3 linked regions of the Homo sapiens genome follow. The protein of the gene in region 1 purifies or fractionates together with the protein of each later gene. This does not show direct contact. Each region holds a gene or a part of one and is shown in the gene's direction. Other genes may lie near its edges.

Evidence for each region. The genes of interacting proteins can lie anywhere in the genome.
Region 2: the proteins of RCN1 (region 1) and VWA1 purify together in Homo sapiens (affinity purification with mass spectrometry; 3 studies listed by BioGRID and IntAct, with this or other methods). This does not show direct contact.
Region 3: the proteins of RCN1 (region 1) and SPECC1L purify together in Homo sapiens (affinity purification with mass spectrometry; 3 studies listed by BioGRID and IntAct, with this or other methods). This does not show direct contact.

Annotation. Positions count from the first base shown.
Region 1 is NC_000011.10:32,086,145-32,094,292, forward strand, and holds the start of RCN1 (reticulocalbin-1 precursor), read left to right. Parts: upstream 1-4,929; 5' UTR 4,930-5,052; coding exon 5,053-5,306; intron 5,307-8,148. UniProt on the Homo sapiens protein: May regulate calcium-dependent activities in the endoplasmic reticulum lumen or post-ER compartment.
Region 2 is NC_000001.11:1,430,719-1,438,829, forward strand, and holds the start of VWA1 (von Willebrand factor A domain-containing protein 1 isoform 1 precursor), read left to right. Parts: upstream 1-4,971; 5' UTR 4,972-5,030; coding exon 5,031-5,103; intron 5,104-6,208; coding exon 6,209-6,766; intron 6,767-8,111. Other genes in the region: uncharacterized protein LOC107985729, read left to right, coding at 2,515-2,570, 3,245-3,353, 3,478-3,684, 3,818-4,432. UniProt on the Homo sapiens protein: Promotes matrix assembly. Involved in the organization of skeletal muscles and in the formation of neuromuscular junctions.
Region 3 is NC_000022.11:24,322,654-24,329,970, forward strand, and holds part of SPECC1L (cytospin-A), read left to right. Parts: coding exon 1-265; intron 266-1,566; coding exon 1,567-1,774; intron 1,775-6,192; coding exon 6,193-6,266; intron 6,267-7,317. UniProt on the Homo sapiens protein: Involved in cytokinesis and spindle organization. May play a role in actin cytoskeleton organization and microtubule stabilization and hence required for proper cell adhesion and migration.

The DNA of each region.
Region 1 (8,148 bases):
AAAGTATTTAATTAGTAAAAAGATATTGTCTTCTGCAATATCTAACCTTCTGTTAATCTTATATGGTGTATTTTTCATCCCAGATTTCAAAGTTTTGCTATCTAGGCTTTCAATTTGTGTCTTTTTTGTATTTTCTCTGGCTCTTCTGAACTTTTAAAACATTTAACACAATTACAATAATTGTTTTAATGTTCCTCTCTGTTAAGTCTAATATCTGTGTCAGTTCTGGGTCAGTTTTTACAGACCGATTATTCTCCTCGCTGTGTTTTCCTGCCTTGCTGTGTCTTTGATTGGATAATGCAAATTGTGAATTTCACCTTGTTGGGTGCCAAATTTTTTTTTTTTTTAATTCTTGTATGTTTTCTTGAGCTTTTCAGGTCTTGCCTTTGTGCTTTGAGAGGCACTTTCTGGAGCAGTGCTCAGTCTAGGGTTAATTATTCCCCACCACTGAGGCAAGACCTTACTAAGTACCCAGTGCCCCATGAATGATGAGTTTTTCCAGTCTGACTGATGGGAACAGGTACCATGCCTGGCACCCACTGTTCCTTCTAATCCTTTCAGATGGCTCAGTCCTCAGCCTACACGCATGCACTGTTCACCACTTTGCTGAATGGCCAAGGGGATCCTCTGTGGAGCTTTGGGATTCTCTCTCTGTGCAGCCATCTTCTCTCCAGTACTCTCTCTTTAGAACCACGGCTGACTTGGTCTCTCTGGACACTCACTTCTGTCTTTTCAACTTCAGGAGTCTGCCAGGATCCATCTTAGTTCTCCCTCTCTGCACAGTGACCTGGCAACTCTGCCAAGGTAATTCTGGGGTAATCCTGGGACTCACCTAGTTTGTTTCCAATGTTGTTCATTGCCTGGTGTCCAGTGTCTTGAAAACTGTTGCTTCATATATTTTGTTTGTTTGTTTCAAATGGGAGGATAAATCCAGTCCCTCCTTCACTCCATCTTGACCAGAAGCAGAAGTTGGTAGCTATTGTTATTTTATCATTCATTCAAGATATTTTAGGGGCACCTACTATGAGCCAGGCACTATACTAGGTTGAGTATACAGTGGTGAGCCAAAAGAATATGGTCCTGGTCTCACAGCAAATCTGTCTTATGGCGATCAACTTCTGCCAGAAGGCAGTAAATATGGTAGGCCCTGGATTTACGAACATGGACATGAATCGGCTGTGATCATTTCTCTCAAGGAATTCAGAATTAGAAGGGAAGAAAAATTAATACAAAGCTGACTGTGAGAAGTATGTGAGATACAAAGGCTCTGGGCATATTGATGAAGAAATAATTAATTCTGATTTAAGGTATAAGGGAAAACTTCATGGAGAAGGTGACATTTGAGTTGGGACCTGAAAAGTTCATGTAATTTTGAATGGTGGAGAAGCAGGAGGGAGGTAGAGATGCTGAAAGTGCTTTTAAACATGTGGCAGACACAGCTATTTGGCTTGTTCTTCCTCGCCCACAGAACCCTAATCATGTGCTTCAGAGGATGCTACATACAGTACTTTCCAGCTCCTACCAGTGAGTCTTGATTGGTTGAAATCAATCATGGAATTTCTATTCCCCATGCCTGTCACTGGATCCAGCATAGGCACATGACACAATTCTGGCCAATGAGATATGAGGGACAGTCTGCTGGGAAAGTTTATTTTTCAAAGAAAGGGAGAGAACATTCCTTTCCCCTACTGTTTCTGAGGGAGAAACAAAAACAAAAACAAAAAAACCTGATTCCTTGATGATGTCCTGAAACCACTGAAATTAACCAATCTGAAACCAATATAACTCATGACTTCTTGTTGCATGAGATGGTAAAGTTTTCTTCTTGTTTCAGTAACTTCTGGTTGGATTTTTGTTGTAGTTGATGGTGTTACTTTTGGCCAGATGCGGGAGACCAGCATACCCTAAGCTGATCAGTTTACCCATTTGAAACTCGCTTTTCCTTTTCACTGAATCAACCCTCTGCTAAATGTTACTTATCTTGTTCTTGTTCCTCTGCTTCATCAAGAATGGAGGTTAACCTAAGACCTAAGGCATGACAATGCACTTAGTCACTCTTCCCAAACATGCACATGGGGGGGAGATGCAAAACAGCTTTGAAAATGAAAGAAAGCAATTACACAGTGCAATACCTTGACTATTCTGTCCCATCATCCTTCCTGAACCTTTGATTGGGAGGACTTGAACTCTTATGGTAGGGTGGAGGGATGAAAATAAATATAAAGGAAAAGAGTGTAGGCAAGCCCAGGGGAAATTATGTAAATTCTTCCGGATTCACAGCAGTGCTAGAATTCTCTGGTAATTCCCACAGGAGCCAAGACTACCTCTGAAACAATCTAACTGTTGGAAACCACCAGTGTCTGGCAGGAAGCCAACTATAACAAGGGCAAAAGATATGCCTTTTTGGAGAGTCTGGACCAATCCCAGGGACCCAGGCCAGCCTGTGGCCAAAGTTGTGAATATGCAAAAACTGTCACCAGTCTCCACTCGCTTTCCCGTTCCCTTCCTAGTCCCCTTCTTTTTCTAGCCCCAATCTTTTTCTCCCTGTTCCTCCTCCCACTCCTCCTTCTCCTCCCTCACTCACTCAACAATTCATATCCTGCTTGCCTGATGAGCACAGAAGGTACTAAACCGCCTACCTTAGGACACTTGCATTTCAGCAGGGAGCTCTTACACCCCCAAGGTAATGCTCCTCTATTGCTAGAAATTCAGATCTCTAGGCTGGCTGGGGGAAGCATGTCTGGTCTCAGGCACAGTACTTCTTGTGCCATGCAAAGTCAGCTGGTGGGAAGGGGGGGATCCAAGGAAAAGAAGGGGACTAGGAAGAGAAGCGGGGATCCAAGGACTGGCTTCCCAGCTCTCACTGCCAGCCAGTGGGGTCACAAAGACATTGCCTCAAATGTGGAGCTGTCCTCTGCTAGCTCGTACAGGATCTTATCCTTCTCTCACATAACTACATCCTTCCATCTAGCTTATCTTACTCACCTTCAGTCTCAATTTAAATGTGTCTTCCTCTGGGAGGCCTTCCCTGATTGATTCCCATGTCTGGATCGGTTCAGTACCCCCAGACCACTACATGCCTTTCTCTGTGAGCACTTGTCATGCTGACTTGTGATCCATGGATCTCAGTTAGCCAGAATCCAGCACAGCCTGACACTTAGCAGGTGCTCAGTTTATGGAACGAACGAACGAATGAACATCTGTTCATATACACTATAGCTCTGCAGACACCATGATTATCTTGTTCTCCATTGTACCCTCAGCACCCAGTCCAGTGCTTAGGCTGTAGTAGTAAGACAGTAATGATTTATTAATTGATTGAAAGAGGGCGTCCCAAGAAAGGGACTTGCGTCTATGTTGCGACGACATCTTTATTGCAAGGGCAAGAAGCACATCCCAGACCTTTTTGAAAACATCAGGGATGGAGGTGGGAGGCAAGGCAAGATGGAGGAAATTTCTAGGAGTACAGATATTTAGCTGTCATGGTGGGTTTCCCTCTTCAACTATCGTTTCAGTTTTCTAGGGTTTTTTTTTTTTTTTATGGAGTTTCTCTCGTTTCCCAGGTTGAAGTGCAATGGCATGATCTCGGCTCACTGCAACCTTCGCCTCCCAGGTTCAAGCGATTCTCCTACCCCAGCCTCCGACTAGCTGAGATTACAGGCGCCCGCCACCTCGCCCAGCTAATTTTTGTATTTTTAGTAGAGACGGTGTTTCACCATGTTGGCCAAGCTGGTCTCGAACTCCTGACCTCAAGTGATCTACCTGGCTCCGCCTCCCAAAGTGCCGGGATTACAGGCATGAGCCACCGTGCCCGGCCTTCTAGGGATTCTTAACCTGGGGCTCATAGGTGGGGCTTCAAAAGATCCATGAATCCTCCGACTCTTTAATCAAGCACCCGTGTCAGTAGCTGTATGTGCATTTTTCTGGAAGAGGATCATGGCTTTCAATGAGTGTCAAAAGGCTGAGACTGCTCGAGACCTCACCGTCCAATACGGTAGCCATTAGTCCCGTGTGGCTCTTTAAGTTTAGATTTAAATTAAAATTTCAGTGCCTCACTTACACTAAGCTACACATCAAGTGCTCAACAGCCACTACCTACAGGCCAGACCAGATAGAGGGCATTTCCATCATTGCAGAAAGTTTGATGGGACAGATATCTGTATTGGTAGCATTACCAACTGAATACAGGTAAGATTGGATCCAACTAGTGCTTTTGTAAAATGAGTTACCAACATTTAGAAATAAAACATAAAAATCTAAAATCCTGATTGATTTCATTTGGGAAACAGGACTATCTATCAGCGTGGGGCCTGCGTTCCCCTGGCAGCTGGAACGCACAGTACCGCTCCCTTTAGAGGGACTCTTGGTCATATAGAAGTTCCCCGCTTGACCCTCCTTGACGACTGACAGTACGACCCTCGTTTCTAGGGGACTTCGCCCGTCTTGGTCTCCTTCCAGGCTCGCGTTTGTAACCAGACTCCAAATTTTACTAAATGGGGTTGAATTGGGTTTGAGAGCACATCTTAGAGCAGGGTCTAGGGCTGAGATTCGGGGTCTCAGTTGGAAGTTGAGGAAGGGCAACGTCTCCTTCCTTACAGTTTTCCCGGAACTGTAGGAAGTCAGAGGGAATTTTATCCTGCACATCTGTTGCTTGACAAAGAACTTCCCAATCCTCCTCCGAGCCCTCCAGTCCCTAGCCCAGTTCGCCCGGGCCCGCCCCTAGCAACAAGATCGCGGGGAGGGGCCGAGGCGAAACACGAGCCCCGCGCCCACCACCCCAGCTGGCGACGTGGCTCCGCGGCCCCGGCTTCCCCCGGCAGCTCAGCGACCAATGGGCGCGCGAGCGGGGCCGCCCGCAGCTTCCCAGCCCGAGGCCCAGGCGCGCCCCTCTGCTCCGGCTCGGGGCGGGCACTGGCGGAGGGACTGGCCAGTCCCCTCCTCCGCGCCGGCCCCAACCCTGTCGCTGCCGCCGCGCTCCGAGTCCCCATTCCCGAGCTGCCGCTGTTGTCGCTCGCTCAGCGTCTCCCTCTCGGCCGCCCTCTCCTCGGGACGATGGCGCGCGGTGGCCGCGGCCGCCGCCTGGGGTTAGCCCTGGGGCTGCTGCTGGCGCTGGTGCTGGCGCCGCGGGTTCTGCGGGCCAAGCCCACGGTGCGCAAAGAGCGCGTGGTGCGGCCCGACTCGGAGCTGGGCGAGCGGCCCCCTGAGGACAACCAGAGCTTCCAGTACGACCACGAGGCCTTCCTGGGCAAGGAGGACTCCAAGACCTTCGACCAGCTCACCCCGGACGAGAGCAAGGAGAGGCTAGGGTGAGGCCGCGGCCAGGGCCCCGTGGGGGGCGGCGCAGGTGTCCGAGGGCCGCCTGGGCGAGAGCCACGCGGGATACCACCGCCAAAGCGAAAGCGAAATCGCGCGCGCGGCCTCGAGGATGGGGCCCTGCCCAACTCGGCGCTGGGGCTCAGGCTAACTTGCTGGAGGGCCCCGGGACCCCAGCTTGGAGATCGCCGCCGCCGCGCCCCGGCCGGGGTGGTTTCTCGCGGGGAGGCGAGAACGTGGCAGCGGCCGCGGGAGCCAGGACGGCGAGGGCCCGCCCCCTCCCCCAGGTTGCATCAGAAGGGAGGGGAGAGTGCACAAAAGAAGAGTTTGTCCACAGTGGCCTGTTAGTGCCATGAGTTCCTCCCCACTCTCTCGCAGTTTCTCTCTGATCCCCCACTCCCGGGGAGAAGGGCTTGAGACACTCGCTAAGAAAATCTCAGGGATGAACATAAATGGATAAAAGATGAAGGGGCAGGCGAGCGACAGGCTTGCTTCCTGGTCTCGGCCGCAGTGGTCTTGCCTTTTGCCTAATCGCCCTGTAAATCTATCGTAAGGAGTCTGGGCGCGGTGACTCACGCCTGTAATCCCAGCACTTTGGGAGGCCGAGGCGGGGGGAGGGGTGGGGAGATCACCTGAGGTCAGGAGTTCGAGACCAGCCTGACCAAACGGCGAAATCCCGTCTCTACTAAAAATACAAAAATTAGCCGGGCGTCGTGGCACACGCCTGTAATCCCAGCTACTTGGGAGGCTGAGGCAGGGGAATCGCTTGAACCCGGGAGGCGGAGGTAGCAGTGGGCCGAGATTGCGCCACTGCACTCCAGCCGGGGCTAGAGTGAGACTCCATCTCAAAAATAATAAAAATAAAAATAAAATAAAATCTAGTGTAGGGATACAAAAATCCGGTTGAAAAGGGACACGCAGTTTCCGATTGGAAACACGAGGGAGCAGGAATGGAAACGGTTCGCCTGAAACGTTTCTGTTGGCAGCAGATGTCTGCAGAAGCACTCAGTTCTTTGGCAACTGATTTGTTTGGGGGGCAAAAAGCTGGAGGGTTCTCTTGGTGGTGGAGGATTTTGACTTGGGCTGTTAAAGGCAGTTGAGTCAGGAACCAAACCCGGGAAACAAAACTTCGGCGCATTTTAGTACACCCTCCCCGGGTCCCCTGAGGAAACACTTGGGCACTGTGCGGAGGTATCTGGTGGTCCTTGCACAGAGGACCCAGCAGGCAGCCTGGTCCCAGATGGAGGCAGGGCTGGGGAAGAAACCAGCAGTCCTGCCTATTGGGCACCAGGTCTCAGATCTCCCTGAACCTGATTCCTGGGGGTGGAGGATCTTCATGTTCTGCCACATGAAAGAGAACACAGCCATCCCTGTGCTCCTGGGGGCCTCCAAAGGCCAAAGTGTTTCATTGGAATATGAGGATAAATTATACCTATTGTGTAGGTGCACCATTTGCCTGCTCTGATAAAAAGACCTTTGAACTTCAAAGTCACCTCCAAACAATTACCTTTTATCTTGCAGAGTACTTTCTCTTCTCAGTTAGGACTTAACAATAGGGGCCATTGATGAGTTCAGTCTATTGTATTGCTTTGAGGCACTTGGAGACTGATTTATCCTGGAGCCCTGAGTGGCAGCCACATTGTCACTGGAGAGGAGGCAGGGAGAGGTTTTGGGATTTGGAAAACTTTATAAGGTGTGGTCATGCAGCTTCCAGTTAATGCCTTCATTGTGACAGTTCAGCCTAGTAGTGAGAAAAAGTGACGGTGAAGTTGGTCTGGATTTGATCCTTGTATCAACACCTTGACTTCATTCATTTATTCATGCAACAAACATTTGAATGGCTACTGTGTACCAGGCCCCAGTTTAGATAACTGGCAGGTACAAAGATGAAACCTTATGCTCTGGGCGTCGAAGTGCTTGTAAGCAAATGTGGAGGAGAGAAGCACAGACAAACTAGCCATTATGCACAATTGCTGCAATGATGGCCTATAAAACCTACTGTGAGCACATTCAGGAGAAGGAGCCGCCAAGGCTGCAGGTTAGAGAGAGGGGATTGGGGCTGTCACCTGATCAGAGTTTGTAGGATGACTTGGAGGTTGCCAGGTGTACAGCAGGGGAAGGCCTTCCTGAAGAGAAAACAGCCCATTTCTAAAGGGTTTGAAAAGCGTTCTGGGGCATGAGGGGTGGTGAGTCTGCAAAGGGGCAGGGAAGGGAAGTGAGAGGTGAGAATGGAGGGGAAACCAAGGGCAGAGCAGGAAGGACCTTGGTGAGATGGACATGAGATGTTATCCTGTACATTGTCAAAATGTCATAATCCCCAAAACTCATTGGGAAAGTCAGGCTGGCAGGAGGGCAGTACACAGAGAACATAATCAAGGCACAGACTAGACCAGTGGCAGGGAGAGGAGGTGAATGCCAAAGGGGCTTGGTCTCTCCGGATTCCAGGAGGGGATGAATCTAGACACCAGTGGGAGGCAGAACTGGCAGCTCTTGCTCTTGACTCAATGAGGGGGAGAAGAGAGAGGTAGGAATCAAGGGGACATCCGGGTCTCTGGCCTTAGCCACCAGATGGGTGATGGATGCACCATTCACTTGTAGGTTAAATGTGGGGTAGAGGCGGGGTAGGAGGTGCTGGAAATTATGGGTCCTGTTTGGGATGGGGCTGAGTGTGAGAAGCTGCCCCTCTGTCCAAAGCTTCTGTTTCAGTGGTCCCCTCCAAGATTGGGCTGAGGAGGAATGAGTGTGGCTGGATCTAGGCAACTTTGTCACCATCACCTGTCAGTCCTGAAAATGTGACAGCTCTAAGGCCCCTAAAGACACCTGGACCAGAGGTTG
Region 2 (8,111 bases), on another chromosome or scaffold:
GTCTTCTGTCCACAGCTGCCTCAGGCGGCTGTTTCCAAAGGTGTTTCCAGCTTCCCAGGCCCACCCTGAGGCCCCGCACCGCCAGGGAGGTGGAAGGCACGGAGCAGCGAAGCCCGGCCCCGGCCCCGGCCGCCCGACCAGCTCACAGAGGAACACCTGTGGGGGGGCCTGTGGGCGGTTCACAGAGGGATGTAGGAACGTGCCTGTGGGAGGCCGTAGCCCCGGAGAGCAGAGGCCTGGCCGGCGGAAGAGAAGCAAGGAAGGGGCGATTCAGGAAGGCCAGAGCCCGAGTGCCGGGGCAGGGGCCCCACCCCCTCACCCCCTCACCCCCTCACCCCCTAGGACAGAAGAGGCCCTCCGTTGGAAGGCAGGGGCCCCACCCCCAGGACAGAAGAGGCCCCACGTTGGAAGGCAGGGGCCCCACCCCCTAGGACAGAACGGGCCCTGCGTTGAGGCCCCTGGGTTCTTCCCCCGGGTTCTTGCCTGGCCCCTTCCATGGATCCTAAGCAGCTCCCTTATCGGCCACCATCTGGGAAGCCAGGAGGGGGGCATGAAATGAGGGGGAGGTGGGGCCCCCAGCCAGGGTTCCCCTCCTCAAGGCCCCAGGTATACAGTTGGCCTTTGCCCAGCCCTTCTAGCCCCTGCAGGGGCAGGACCCCACCTGGACCCCATGAATCTCTCCCAACTTTTGCCCAGCATGGTGTCCCTGACCGAAACCCCTCCACTTCAGGACCCTGGGTCCCCAGGCCCGCCCCCACCCTGAGGGTGCCTCTACACCCCTTCCCCCAGAGCCCCTTCCCCCAGCCTGAGGGCCAGGAGCAGCCTCCCTCTTCCTGCAGTCTCTACCACAGCTCTCCACTGGCCCAGGGGCCTGAACTCCTTGGGTGCAGCCGAGCTGCAGGGTGGCTGTGGGGACCTCTGCTTGGCGTTCTTTCCCGGTGGCTGAGGCCCCTGCCCTGCCCAAATGGGAGCCCGGAGTGTGTGTGTGTGGCTGTGTGTGTCCCATCTGCGTCCCTGTCACACGTCATGCCGGAGCAGGGGAGGCAGTAAGGGGCCCCACCCCACTGGATGCAGTGGGCTTCCCACCTTGCCCGGTGTCATTTCCTGATTTGCAAAATATTTCCTGGGAGCAGAGTTGTTGGCAAGCACAGCCTCAGACGGTGTGAGCAGCTGGGGGACCCCTCAGATGTGGCTCCCTCTGTCCCTCCGGCCTGTGCTGGCCTGCCCCTGCCCCCAGGCCTGTAAGCTGGGCAGGCTGTGGGGCAGGAACTCCCCAGGGTGAGTGGGCTGGTCTGAGGGCTAAGGCCCCTGCTCCCAGCTCCGCCCCACCCGCCTCTGGGAGTCCCTTGTGGTGTGTGGACATAGGTCAGTCCCTCCCTGCTGCCTCCTCCCTATCCCAGTCCAGGCCCCTGGGAGTTTTGCGTCTGCCCAGGGCTGTGGCCTGGGCCTGTCTGGACTGTGTCTGGGGAAGGGGCAGCATGTGGTCCTCCTCTCCCTTTCAGGGAAGGATGTCCCAGCAGAGAGGCAAAGTGAGGGGACCCACACAAGGAAGGGGCCCTGCTATTAGGAAACCCTGGGTCATTCAGGCCTGCTGCTCTCCGGCTCCCACCGGGCCGGGCTCTGTCCTCGCTGTGACGAACCTCCTGCCCCTGTCGAGGCCGGCAACACCCTCCACCCGGCCACCCCTCCCGAAGGCCCCCAGCCTGCTCTGCCCCTGCAGTCCTGGCGCAGGCCCCTCCTGCCCACCCCACCCTGCTCTCAGCACTCGCGGTTCCTTCTCTCTGCCTGGAAGGCTCTTCCTCGGGTACCCCTTGCGTGCGAGTCCCCAGTGACCCCCTGTTCTCACAGGGAAAACAAGTAGACCGTATCTTTCCTAGCTGTTCACCGCCCACCCTCCTAGCCTGGCAGTGCTGGCCCGGCGCCTGTGTGTCCCCAGCACTGAGGCTGGGGCGCGGCTGTGCCCAGCACACAGACGAGGGATGGATGGACAGACGCAGATGGTGCAGCTCCCACCCCTACCCAGGCTGCTACCCGCCAGGTGTCTACCCGCCACCCCAGCTGCTGCTGGCACGGGGGACTGAGGGGGGTCAGCTCTGGGGCCAGAGGGGCAGGCCTGGGCTCCTGGGAAGTGAAAAGTGACCCCCGAGGCCCCCAAGACCTGTCCTTGACCCCAGTGAGCAGGTTGAGTCTAGGAGCTGCGTGGGCCCTGCTCTCTTGGTGACCCCTGCTCTGCCCCACTTACTGTTGTGGGGTGGGCTCAGGCACACCCCAGAGCAGTGCCTCAGGCCCGCACCGCTGCCCCTCACCGCCGCTGCCCCTCACCGCCGCTGCCCCTCACCACTGCTGCCCCTCACCGCCCCGTCCATCTGCTCCTGTGTGTGCTTGAGTACGTTTGTGAGATACGTGAAAACAGCAACAAAAGGCGCCGGGTGCGGGCCTGGGCGTCCTGCCCTCAGCTCGGGTCAGGGGTGGGGTCAGAGGCCTCAGGAGTTGCCCTTTTACCCAGGGTCAAACATGACCACAGCCAGCTGGGGACAAAAGGCCCTTCATCTTCTGCAGAAGCCTGGATTGTGCGGAGGAGGGAGCATTCCCAAAGGCGGGTGGGGGCAGGGGCGGTGCCCGGGTGACAGCAGCCTCCCCAGCTTCCTGGAACTCTCTCCACCTGCCTGCAGACAGACCGGCAGGGCAGGCTGGCTCCGGGAAGTGAGGCACAGGGACTCCCACAGCCCAGGCCCAGACCGTGGGGGCGGGGTGGCCGCAGCCAAACCAGGCTGCTCCCCACCCCATGGGGCCCCAGGCCACCAGGATCAGACAGGGGCTGTGCCTGCAGGAGGCAGAGGGCTCGGGGCCAGCACCCACTGTGATCTGGCCTGACCCGTCCTTGCCTCTGCCTCTTACCCCGGGCCCTTCTCCCTGGAGAGTGGAGGGTTCCGGCTGTTATATTTGTGCTTCCTCCGGTGTCTGCCTCAAGTCCGGCCCGGGCCCTGACACTGCACCTCTGGCTGACCCCATGCTCTCTGGGACCCTCTGTCCACGTCCCTCCTCCGGGGTGGAGACAGCGGGGGGAGGGCAGGACACAAGAATGAGTCCTGAAGACTGAGGGGCACGGGGAGAGCTGATGGGGAGGGTCTCCTAGCTGGAGGGACTCCAGGCAGAGCCGGGAGCAAGGCAGGTGGCTGAGCTCGGCCCAGGCTGGGTGGAGGCCAGGCCTCCTGTGCCTTCTCCCGCTGATGGCGAGCTGAAGGGAGGAGGGCGGCCGCTTCCTTGAGGGCCTGAGTCACAGCCAAGAAGACCCGCTCACTTTTTCCAGAAGTGAGGGAAACTTCCCCGTCAGCCCTGCAAGGCTGGCTGAGGTGTGACTGTGGCCCGCCTGCTGGGCGAGGGTGGGGGACAAGCGGGCCACTGGCTGTGAGCCTCCCCAGGGTGGGGGACCCTCGGCCCAGCTCCCTGCCTGACTACCTGGACGTGCCTCCGCAGGGTCTGCAGCCAGCTTCCGGTCAGACCCCAGGTCCTCCAGCGGCTGCGGCCTTCAGCGTCATCTCCACGGCAGCCCCTGTGTACTGGGGGCTGGGGGGCCTGGCGAGGCCCCTCGAAGTGGTACAGCTTGCACTCTGGGGACCCAAAGTCCCCCCACCGGGCCCAGGCGGAAGCACCAGGCATTTCTGGTCCCAGCCGAGGTCTGAGGTCTGTGGAGCGCAGCCAGCACCTCCACTGCCAAGATCCCCGGCAGGGGGGGTGGGGGGCGCCGGCGGGGACACAGCTCTCCCTTGTTCCTGCCGCCAGCTCCTCAGCCTCAGCCTGCTGCTTCCTTTTTTAGGCAAAGTCGAGTGCTGGCCGTCCGCACGGCCCCGCGGTGTCTCACCTGCCTGAAAGGGAGGAAGGAAGCCTGTGGAGCCCCATCCGTTCTCCCGCGGCGCATCCTCCAGGAGAGGGTGGGGAAGGAGGAGACATCCTGGCAGACACCCCCCCACGTCCCCCACCTCCCAGCTCTGAGCTGAGGAGGCCCTGGAAGAGGGCCATGGCTACTCCGAGGGAGGGCCGGGGTAGGGTTCTCCTGTCCAGGGGACACTGCTGGCCCAGCCCCACCCAAGCAGGGGAAATCTGCCCTGGGAGCCACTGTCCCTCAGGACGCCCCCTGCAACCAGCCACCTCTCGTCTGGGCCTCACCAAGACCCCAAGACTCAAGAGCTCCTGTCTCACCAGTGGGACCCTCCAGTCCTGCTGGGGGTGTGTCCTGGGTCCTGGAGTCTGGGCCCCTCACTGGGTAGGGTATATGGGTAACAGGCCCAGTGTGGTCCCACTGGACAGGGCCTCAACCAACCATCTCCCACTCCCATGCCTCTTCCTCCAAGAAGCCCAGGTGGCGTGGGTGCTTCGAGTCTCTCTCGAATTCCTGTCTTCTGTCCCCTTTCAAGCCACTGTGTCCTTGTAAGTTCCACCCCATGGTCCTTCCCATCCCTGCTGGTCAGTCCCTGGGATACATGTCCTGTTACTCCAGACACCTATCCGCCTCCAGCGCGGAGGCCAAGGCGAAACCACGGTCTGGACGTGTTTTTTTGGTGCCACCGCCAGCCCCTGGGGTTCTCTTGGGCCTGGCTGCTGGGACCCCAGCACCCAGAGTCACGGCAGTGGTGGGCATGGGGAGGGCCTAGCCTGGTACCTCCCTGCTCGGCTCCCGCGGCTGGGGGTCGGAGAGGGGTGGAGAGCGTGGGCCGCACAGCCTCGGCCGGGAGAGGGAGACTGGAGTGTGTGTGTGTGCGTGCCTGCGCGTGCGTGCCTCGGTCGTATCTCGGCTGGTGCTGCGTGTCCCTGCGTGTCGGGGTCCGCTCGTGCGCGCCTCTCCGGGGTCTGTGCGCGTGGCCCTCCGCTCGCGCCGGAGGGCGTGGGCGTGGCCTCGGCGTGGGTGTGGCCGCTCGGGGAGGGGCCTCCCGGGGGCGGGGCCGGCCTGGTCCGCGCGGTGACGCGCCCTGCAGCCCCGAGCGAGCGAGCGAGCGAGCGAGTTGCCGAGCGCGCCCCGTCCCTCGCGCGCGATGCTCCCCTGGACGGCGCTCGGCCTGGCCCTGAGCTTGCGGCTGGCGCTGGCGCGGAGCGGCGCGGAGCGCGGTGAGTGCGGCGGGCGGCCGGGCCGGGGCTGGGGCTTCTGGTGACCGCTCTGCGCCGCTGCCCGCGCAAGGCCGTCGCTGTCCCCTGCTCCGGACGGGCGGGCGGGCTGGGAGGCTGCGGGAGCCGGGCGGGGGCGCGGGCGGAGCGTCCTGCTCACCTGAGGCTGGCGGCCCAGGTGCTCCAGGCGACACCGTCCGTGAGCGCCGGGGCATAGGGGCCGTCCCGGCCCGCATCTCTGCGGGATCGCGGGCCTGGACAGGAAGAGGGAGATGTCTGTCAAGGGGGCACCCCTGCCTCAGTTTCCCTACCCTTGCGAGGGCCCTTAGTGGAGGGATGGTAGGGAAGTTGGAGTCGCCCCACCGCACTGGGGAAAACCGCAAGGCCGGGACTAGAATTGAGGCACGCTGGTGCCCTGGCTTGGTGGGGAGGGGCGGTGTAGGGGGCATCAGCCTCCACCCCGGAGGTGCCCGGAGGAAGGGGGAAGCCTGCGAGGGGCTGTTCCGGCTTTCAGGCTGCTGGGGGTTATATCTTGTTGTGTGAGTCCAGGTGGGCTGGAGGATGGAGGCCAGGGGAGGGGCCACCATCTAGTAAGCGGGGTCTGGGCTCCAGCCAGGCCATCCGGCGTGGTCATTGCTGTGCCTCCGACACCTTCCCCTGCTGCTGTGTGCATGCCCAGGGTGCCTCACCTGCAGGCTGAGCTGCGTGGCTGAACTCCAGCCTCAGGCTGCTCCTCTGAAAGCCATGCCTGGAGGGAACAGCCCCACGGCTCAGGCCTGTCCTGGGGGCCTAGGCCAGGACTCTTGGCTCCACCTGCTTGCAGGGTCTGTGAGGAATGGGAAGGTGTGGGGGCTTGGAGCGGAGAGTCGCCCTCTCACAGATGGGATAACACAAGCCCAGAGAGAGCCCTAGATCCCATGGCCAGTGTGCAGTGAAACCCCCAAAAGTACAGGCCTCTTGCTTAGAGTTCCTCTTTCCCCCAACCTAGGACCTTTGGGAGAAGGCAAGCATCCACTTAAGGAAAGCTGGGGCCCTGGGGGACCCTGCCTTGCTGTGGGGCTGTCTGGGGGGCCCACACCTGAGGCTGAGCATTCCTCCTTTCCCCCAGGTCCACCAGCATCAGCCCCCCGAGGGGACCTGATGTTCCTGCTGGACAGCTCAGCCAGCGTCTCTCACTACGAGTTCTCCCGGGTTCGGGAGTTTGTGGGGCAGCTGGTGGCTCCACTGCCCCTGGGCACCGGGGCCCTGCGTGCCAGTCTGGTGCACGTGGGCAGTCGGCCATACACCGAGTTCCCCTTCGGCCAGCACAGCTCGGGTGAGGCTGCCCAGGATGCGGTGCGTGCTTCTGCCCAGCGCATGGGTGACACCCACACTGGCCTGGCGCTGGTCTATGCCAAGGAACAGCTGTTTGCTGAAGCATCAGGTGCCCGGCCAGGGGTGCCCAAAGTGCTGGTGTGGGTGACAGATGGCGGCTCCAGCGACCCTGTGGGCCCCCCCATGCAGGAGCTCAAGGACCTGGGCGTCACCGTGTTCATTGTCAGCACCGGCCGAGGCAACTTCCTGGAGCTGTCAGCCGCTGCCTCAGCCCCTGCCGAGAAGCACCTGCACTTTGTGGACGTGGATGACCTGCACATCATTGTCCAAGAGCTGAGGGGCTCCATTCTCGGTATGCGGGAGGAGGCAGGGCCCAGGGAGCCCTAGCTGGGAGCCGCAGAAGGAGAGGCTGGGTTGAGACTTTGGGAAGATCTCATGTCCCCAGAGCAGCGGCCAGGGCCTCCGGGGCTGTGGTACCCCTAGGGTGCAGGGCTGAGTGATGCAGCTTGTCTATGCACACTCTTCACTGGGCGACCCGTGTACCCTGCTGAGACGGGGGCAGGCTTGAGTAGCCACCTCCAGGTGTAGCTCCCTGCTGATGTGTCCAGCCCAGACCTCGAGGCCCCAGGGAGTGCAGAGCCCGGGTGTAGGCCCAGGAAGAAGCTTCCAAGTCTGGGGACTCTGCAGATGGGCAGCATGTGCTCCTGAGCATGCCCACCATACCTGGAGAGGGGTGAGCCAGAAAGGTCAGGGACTGCCCCCCCAGAGAGCACAGGGCACCTCTCCTGGGTGGGGACAGCCGCCGAGGGCTTTGAACTAGTTCGGACTGCAGGCCCACTGTGAGGGTTTCCTGAGAGGCCGGACCAGGGAAGGCCTGAGGCAGGAGCTGAGCAGCTCCCATTGGCTTTTTTTCTGGACCTCCCTGCCCCAGCCAAGCCCTGAAGGAGCTGGGGCTGGAGATGAGGAACCGGCCACTGGCTCAGCCTGCTGCAGCCACTGAAAAATGCCAACCCTGGGGATCTCACCAAGTCTCCGTCTGTGGGTTAATCATCCACCCAGAGCCGGAAGGGGTTGGACTGTGGGTTGGAGAGGGGTGGACGGCCCTCCCCAAGGTTTCCCCAGGGACGTCTGGCCCCTAGTGGCCCCAGGTCACCCAGTGCAGCTGCGCCTGGAGGGGACCAGGAGGAAAGGCTGCCTTAAGCAGCCAAAGGAAAAGCCTGAGGCTGCAGTGCCGAGGGGCCAGGCAGCAGGGTGGGGGCTCCTGGGAAAGAGGCCGGGTCTGAGGGTGGGGGATGGGAAGAAAGTGGCCCAGGCACCCAGCACTGCAGGAGGAAGATCCTGATAGCTTTAACCCAGCGCAGACATTTATGAGCCTCGCCACAGCAGGGTCACTCAGAGGGCTATGTGGGGCTTGGTGTCACAGGTCCAGGAGTCCCCCTCTGGAGAACCCCACCCCACACTCTCCTGGGGACCCAGGGCAGGCAGCGCCTCCAGAACCCCAGGGCCTGCCCCTGTGGTCTCCCATCTCCTAGCTGCAGCTCAGAGAGCCGGGCTGACCTCAGACCCCGGCCTGGCCACTCAGGCTGGGGCTGGTCCTCTGCTCTCAGGCACCACCGTGGACTCTGCCGTCTTTGAGGACCTTTGTCCTGGTCACTGATCTGGCCACTGCACCTCTCCACAAAGGACTGGGTTTGGGG
Region 3 (7,317 bases), on another chromosome or scaffold:
GGCAGCCACGTTAGAGGAATACAAAGCCACAGTGGCCAGTGACCAGATAGAGATGAATCGCCTGAAGGCTCAGCTGGAGAATGAAAAGCAGAAAGTGGCAGAGCTGTATTCTATCCATAACTCTGGAGACAAATCTGATATTCAGGACCTCCTGGAGAGTGTCAGGCTGGACAAAGAAAAAGCAGAGACTTTGGCTAGTAGCTTGCAGGAAGATCTGGCTCATACCCGAAATGATGCCAATCGATTACAGGATGCCATTGCTAAGGTATTGTTTAAATAGATTAAAATGTTCCGGACAGCATTAGGCAGCTGCCATGCACAGTGTTTACTGAGAACCTGGGTTACTGGTTTGGTTTGGTGTGTTATTAGCTTTTTTTTAAAACTGATATTTTTAAAACTTGGGAATGGTTTCCTTTTATTGGAATAGTGTGAAAAGTATTCTTAAGATAATGTCACTTTCTCTCACTTGTATTTTGTTTCTGTTTTCCTGCCTGTGAGAGGATATGGCTGGTATTACAGCTAAAACCAGAATTTGTCCCTAGTTCTGAGTATTCCTATGGAGCGGGTCATGAAATTTTACCTCCCCCCGCCTCATCTCGAATCTGTTTTGGTGTAATAGGTGGAGAGTCAGTATTCCAGTCTGTAGCATCAGCAGTGCATGTTTCCTCTTATCTTGCTATAGTAATAGTTTTTCAAATAGAGATCTGTTGATAGTTAAAAAATATTTTTGGCATATAGAGGCTCCTGTTTCTCAGAGGCCTGTGATTTATTGCTGGCAGGGACCTTAGCAATTATCAGTCCAGACCCTTGTTGTACATGCCTCCAGCATAATAGTGAGGACTCAGTTGGAACTGCTACCCAGGGCCACTGGCATTCTGGCCAGGGATCTATCTATACCCCATGTGGTTGCTGATGAACTGTTTATTTCCATGAGTTATTCTAGTTATACTAGTTATTCTAGCTTACATTTTATTTATTTGTTATTTTAGTGCAATGATTTTAAAATAAATTTTCATATATCTTTGGCTAAAATTTGAGTAATTTAGATTTTAGGGTGTTTTTAGTGATCACTTTTAAAGTTACAGTTTAGGAGATTTGTATTAGTTCTTGGCACATACATGTTGAGAGGCTACTGTGAACTAATACTTTTGTAAAAACACTATTTGAGAATTGTTTTCCCTTTTTCAGTTTGATACTGGAACCGTCACAAATATGACATCATTTTTGTTAGGACAACATGTTAATCATTAAACAAACGTACATGCTTTCAGTCCAAAGTTAGGAGAAACGAAAATTTCCAAAGTTTCCTTGTAAATAATCAGGTTAAGTTCAATGATACATCAATATAATTTCAGTCAGTGTTACAGCAACAGTTTAAGTGTATTAGATAAAATCTTACCATGGAGTGCTTTTTCATACTTTTTAACAGTTATTACACAGGTTGTTTTAGTTTATCCATAGTGCCTCATACTTAGCTCCCCTTGGAAACTGTGTGTACCTCAATTCTGGAACGTACCTTAGAACAACTCTTAACTTTTCTAAATCTGCATCGTCAATTTTACGTAGGTAGAGGATGAATACCGAGCCTTCCAAGAAGAAGCTAAGAAACAAATTGAAGATTTGAATATGACGTTAGAAAAATTAAGATCAGACCTGGATGAAAAAGAAACAGAAAGGAGTGACATGAAAGAAACCATCTTTGAACTTGAAGATGAAGTAGAACAACATCGTGCTGTGAAACTTCATGACAACCTCATTATTTCTGATCTAGAGAGTAAGTGATAAGAACTTTTCATTCTTTTTTGTCCTACTCTTTTAAACATGCGGGGATAATTTGCATTTAGTAATAAAATAGGGCTGGGCACGGTGGCTCATGCCTGTAATTCCAGCACTTTGGGAGTTCAAAACCGAACCAGGCTGGGCACAGTGGCTCACACCTGTAATCCCAGCACCTTGGGAGGCCAAGGCAGGCAGATCACTTGAGTTGAGGAGTTTGAGACCAGCCTGGCCAACATGGTAAAACCCCGTATCTACTAAAAATACAAAAATTAGCTGGGTGTGGTGCCAGGTGCCTGTAATCCCAGCTACTTGGAAGGCTGAGGTGGGAGGATCGCTTGAACCCAGGAGACGGAGGCTGCAGTGAGCTGAGATTGTGCCAGTGCAGTCAAGCCTGGGTGACAGAGTGAGACTTTATTTCAAAACAGAAAAGAAAAAGTCACAGATTGATCCTGTGTCCATGGTAACTGCCTGGCAATATCAGCATGATTGATGGAGATATAACCAGAGCGAGAATGGATTATTTTTTGTCAGAGAATAATGGGGTTCATAATCAATAATGGGACTCAAAAGTTATGAACCCATTATTAAATGAGTAGGGCAGTGCCCAGAGTTGTTCAGAACAAAGTTGGTCTAATAACATTGAGAACAGCAGTTTGCCTGATCTCTAGAATAAAAATAACATTGTAAAAATTGAGTTATAATTTGTAATTTAAAAATAGGAAGATCATAGTAGTAGTTCTTTTCCTTGGTCGACTTGAATGTTGCTTTTGAGTTGAAGACAGTAGATGGCAGTGTCCCTCACAGTAGGAACACTGAAGAGGAAGGAAACTGCTGTTAGAGGTTCGAGAGTTGAAGAGTAATGCTGCTTTCTTGTGTGACCACAAATCGTGCTAGATGGCAGTTTTGCAAACTAGTCTTCACAACAAGAACTTAAGCACAAATTCCTTTGTTTCCAGGAAAAAAAAATACATTCCATTTCAGAGTAAAAACGTAGTCATGACTGTAGAGATTGTAAAGTTTAAATCAAATCCCTACAGACACTTTTAGTGCATTTTATTCTGTCTGAGTATTTCCACTGGCTGCCACTTTCCCTTTTACTTAAATGGATTTATTTATTTATTTATTTATTTATTTATTTATTTATTTATAAGAGGTGACAGTAATAAAAATGTAGTGCCGGGGGCAGAAAAACACCTTTTAAAGAACAGTGATTATGTGAATTCTGTGGCCATGAATGAAAAAAGGTCAATAAAGAGAAAAAGAGCAAAGGAATGAATGCAACTTGAGAATTTATGATCAGTCTAAGATGACCAGGTAGCTTAAAATGTCACCTGAGAATCAAAATGCCAAATGTTAAAAGTGAGCTGTCCTGAGATTTGCTGTCATTTGTCATGTGTGTATTATGTTTAACAGTAAGTAGATGTGTCATGTCCTTTGTGACAAGAAAAAGAAAACAATTTTCAGCAAATTTCAAGAGAAATTACACTCCTAACATTTTTTGTTTGCTTGCCTGTTTTTTGCTGTTTGTTTGCTTTTTTGGGATGGAGTTTCATTCTTGGTGCCCAGGCTAGAGTGCAGTGGTACCATCTTGGCTCACTGCAACCTCTGCCCCCCGGGTTCAAGCGATTCTCCTGCTTCAGCCTCCTGTGTAGCTGGAATTACAGGCGCCCACTACCACACCCGGCTAATTTTTTATTTTTAGTAGAGACAGGGTTTCACCACGTTGGCCAGGCTGGTCTCGAACTCCTGACCTCAGGTGATCAGCAGATATTACAGGCCTGTGCCACCACGCCTGACCGCCTGTTTTGATTATGAAATATTTCTTGCATATAAATTGATACAATGTAAATGAAAGGTGTAACTCCCAGTGTTTTCAACATTAGAAATTTTTCAGCTTCTGTCCTTACTCCTCGTCTTATGTCCAAAACCCTGAATTTGTCTATGTGTGAGGTCGCAAGGAACCAAGTTCCCTTGCTGATTCCAGAGCCATCCTTGCCTCCAGAGATAAGGATCAGGGCATTAGACTCGTCTACTCAGCTTGGTGTCTGCTTTACCCAAACCAGATTAGATGGCCTGTTTGACTCTTCGTTTGCAGGTTGAGTCTGAAGTACCTTATGTGTGAGACAGGCTTTAAAGTTTAATCTTTTGCTTATGAAGTCATCTACCCTTGTTGTCTCAACACAAGACTAGCCTTTCTGTCTCTAAGAGGATGAAGATTATATCTTTCCTTTCCTTTACATCTTAAGCACTTAGAAAAAAGCCTGGTACAAAGTTGGTACATATGACACATTTATCAAATTAAAGAGTAAATTTTGAACCTTTTTATTTCACAGGACCTGACTTTGTTACACAGTTTTGGGGCAGTGAATGAGAGCAAGTTAACTACTGCCTACCAGAATTGCCCCTGCCGCCAACGTTTTATCCCATTTATTTCTGATCCAGCTTTAGAAAATACAGCATTATTATTTATTTGTAATAATTATTATTCCACATATAATTGTTGTAAATATTCTAGGCTCTATGTTGTTAAAGTGAATTCATGCCATTTAAAAATACCAGAACACTGGCTGGGTGCAGTGGCTCATGCTTGTAATCCTAGCACTTTGGGAGGCCGAGGCGGGTGGATCATGAGGTCAGGAGTTCAAGACCAGCCTGGCCAACATGGTGAAACCCCGTCTGTACTAAAAATACAAAAATTAGCTGGACGTGGTGGCAGGCGCCTATAATCCCATCTCCACAGGAGGCTGAGGCAGGAGAATCGCTTGAACCCAGGGGGCAGAGGTTGCAGTGAGCTGAAATCATGCCACTGCACTCCAGCCTGGGCAACAGATTGAGACTCCGTCTCAAAAAAAAAAAAAAAAAAAAAAAAACATCAGAACACACATATACCAACATCAAATGTAAAGCATAATGGCAAAAAAATTTTAGAAGAGAAGGTTCTAGTGGAACAGGGGTAAAGAAGATGATGAGCCATCTAAGAAAGAAAGAACATCAGCATACTCATACTTTAGGGTCCTAATTAAAAGCCAATAAAGTGTTAGCTAGAGGAAGAATTTTTTGATTACATGTGTCATTGCAAGCAGGTGTTCACTATGCCTGAATTCCTGCTACTAAGTATAAGGAATGGGAGAGAATGTTATTTACCCAGAAACACTAATGTCTATAGTTATGTTTTCCCTAATGATAAATCGTTAAGTTCTGTCAATAGGATACTTATTAAAAAAAAAACAAAAACCTAGGTAACGATTTCAGCATTACTTTTTATTACTGCTACCATTAGCTGGCACATTTATAAATTTATTCCATTTTAAAGATACCATATTCCAACTACTGAGTCTGTGAGGTCATCACATGGCTTCTTCTGCCTTTGAAGTGTTTTTAGTCTAGTGGTCGAGACAGATGTGTCGAGATGTGGTAATATTGGCGGCAACATGGTACAAGGCTGTGTAAGACACACTTGGAACACACACAACAGCCAGGGATCTACTGGGGTGGGGCTGTAGGTAAATCAGGGTAAAGGATTTGCCACCAGTTGTGTAAGTACCCTTTCTTGCCCTTAACCAAAAAGTGATTGGTTCCTGAGCTGTCAAAGTAACACAGCCGTAAGCGGTTTACTTAGTGGCAGCTATCAGCATAGCACCCTCCTAAGTCATTTATCTCTTATGCATGGATTTTAGAGTAGAACCTCCAAAGAGAAGGTGACTTCCCTTTACGTTTCTGGTTCCAGGGAGACTAGCCTGTGCTACACTTTCATCCTTGTATCCTCACTCTATCTAGAATGGTACTTTGCATCTTATTGGTGGTGCTCATTGAATGTTTTTAGAGTGAATGAAATTGTTCTAAGAAAATTCACATTATCGGATAAATAATTTGAGGAATTATTGATTTACTTTATAAATATATTCTTTATTTTTTAAAAAGATTTTTATAGAATTAATTGAAACAGCAGCTACCCTGAGTATTATATTTTTTACTAATTTTGATTTTACTAATTCACTTCTTTTCTGGAATTTATTCCAGTGTGTAAGGAAAGCTATGCTTATATAAATACTGCAGATTAATAATACTTGTGATTAAAAGTTCATATTGTAGTCACAGTCAATATTGTTTTGATTGGTTATGTACCAACAAAGTGAATTTCTAACGGTTTTACTTTTTGTTTCAAAATTAAGATACTGTGGAAGGAAGTGATTTAGAAATTGTGATTTTTAACTTGATATTTTCCAAAGAAAGTAATATTTGTTATTACTTGAATTTAACATTTTTTCTGTTAAAGTTTTGTATTAAAATTTTTTATAGTCTTTGGACAGGATAACTTTTTTCGAATGTCATATTTAAGTATCCCTTTTCTTTGTATTATTACTCTGAAGATTGTTGTGAGAATAGATATTTAAACTTTGGTGATCTTTTCAGATACAGTTAAAAAACTCCAGGACCAAAAGCACGACATGGAAAGAGAAATAAAGACACTCCACAGAAGACTTCGGGTAGGATAAATCTTCATGTATTGTCTTGTTAGAAAACGGTTTTCTGAAATCTGAGGTGTAGTCATTGACCATGTTATCATTCATCTTAAGTTTTGGATACAGTGATAATACTGGCCCCATTGGGCTTTGGGCAGAAAGCAAATGCTATCATTTCAAATTGGGATTGGTGCTAGATTTTGGGTAGAAGAATGTACTATAGGTTGAGTACCCCTAACCAGACATTCTGAAATCTAAAATATTCCAAAATTTGCAACTCTTGGAGTGATGGCATGATACTCAAAGGAAATGCTTATTGGAGCATTTTGGATTTCGGATTTTCAGATTTGGGATGCTTAGCTGTTAAGTATAGTGCAAATATTCCAAAATCCAAAGAATCTTAAATCTGAAATGCTTTTGGATAAGTGATACTCGACCTGTAGAAATTTATGGGTAGTAATTTTAGAAAGATAGATTTGGGGAAAAAGTGTAAGAAAGGTTATTAGCTTTTGGTTATAAGGTGCCCCAAACTAGTCTGTTTTCATACAAGTTTTCTTCATTTTGTGGCCATGATCCATCTTGCCAACAGCAATGCAGCCATGCTGCAGGGAGTAGGGAGAAAGCTACTCAGTCGTTTGGGTCATACCACAGTTGCTCAGGCTGCTTTCATGGTGTAAGAAAATTGCTTTAGGGGTGTAGGGGGCGTGGGGCTCAGGCATGCCCCAGCTATGGCTCTGATGGAGGTGAGTCCCAGGGAGACTTCCCCACCCGGCCACACCCGCATCCTCCATGACTGTGGGAAGCAACAGACCACGTAGTTCCTTACCGCCTCTTTGTATAATTTTGCCTGCCTATATTGAGTTTAGTGTTTTTCTTCTGGCTTCCTCTTCCTCTTCCTTTTCTTTTGATTTTTTTTTTTCCTGTTAGATTTTGATGTCAGGCTATTTATAGTTTTTCACTGTATGGTTCACATACCATTTATATACCTTTTTGTGCTTTTCAGAGGTAAACATCCATAAATTCTGGATGATGTTTATTTTCATAAGACTTGCTTTGAAACTTGCATGAAGAAGGG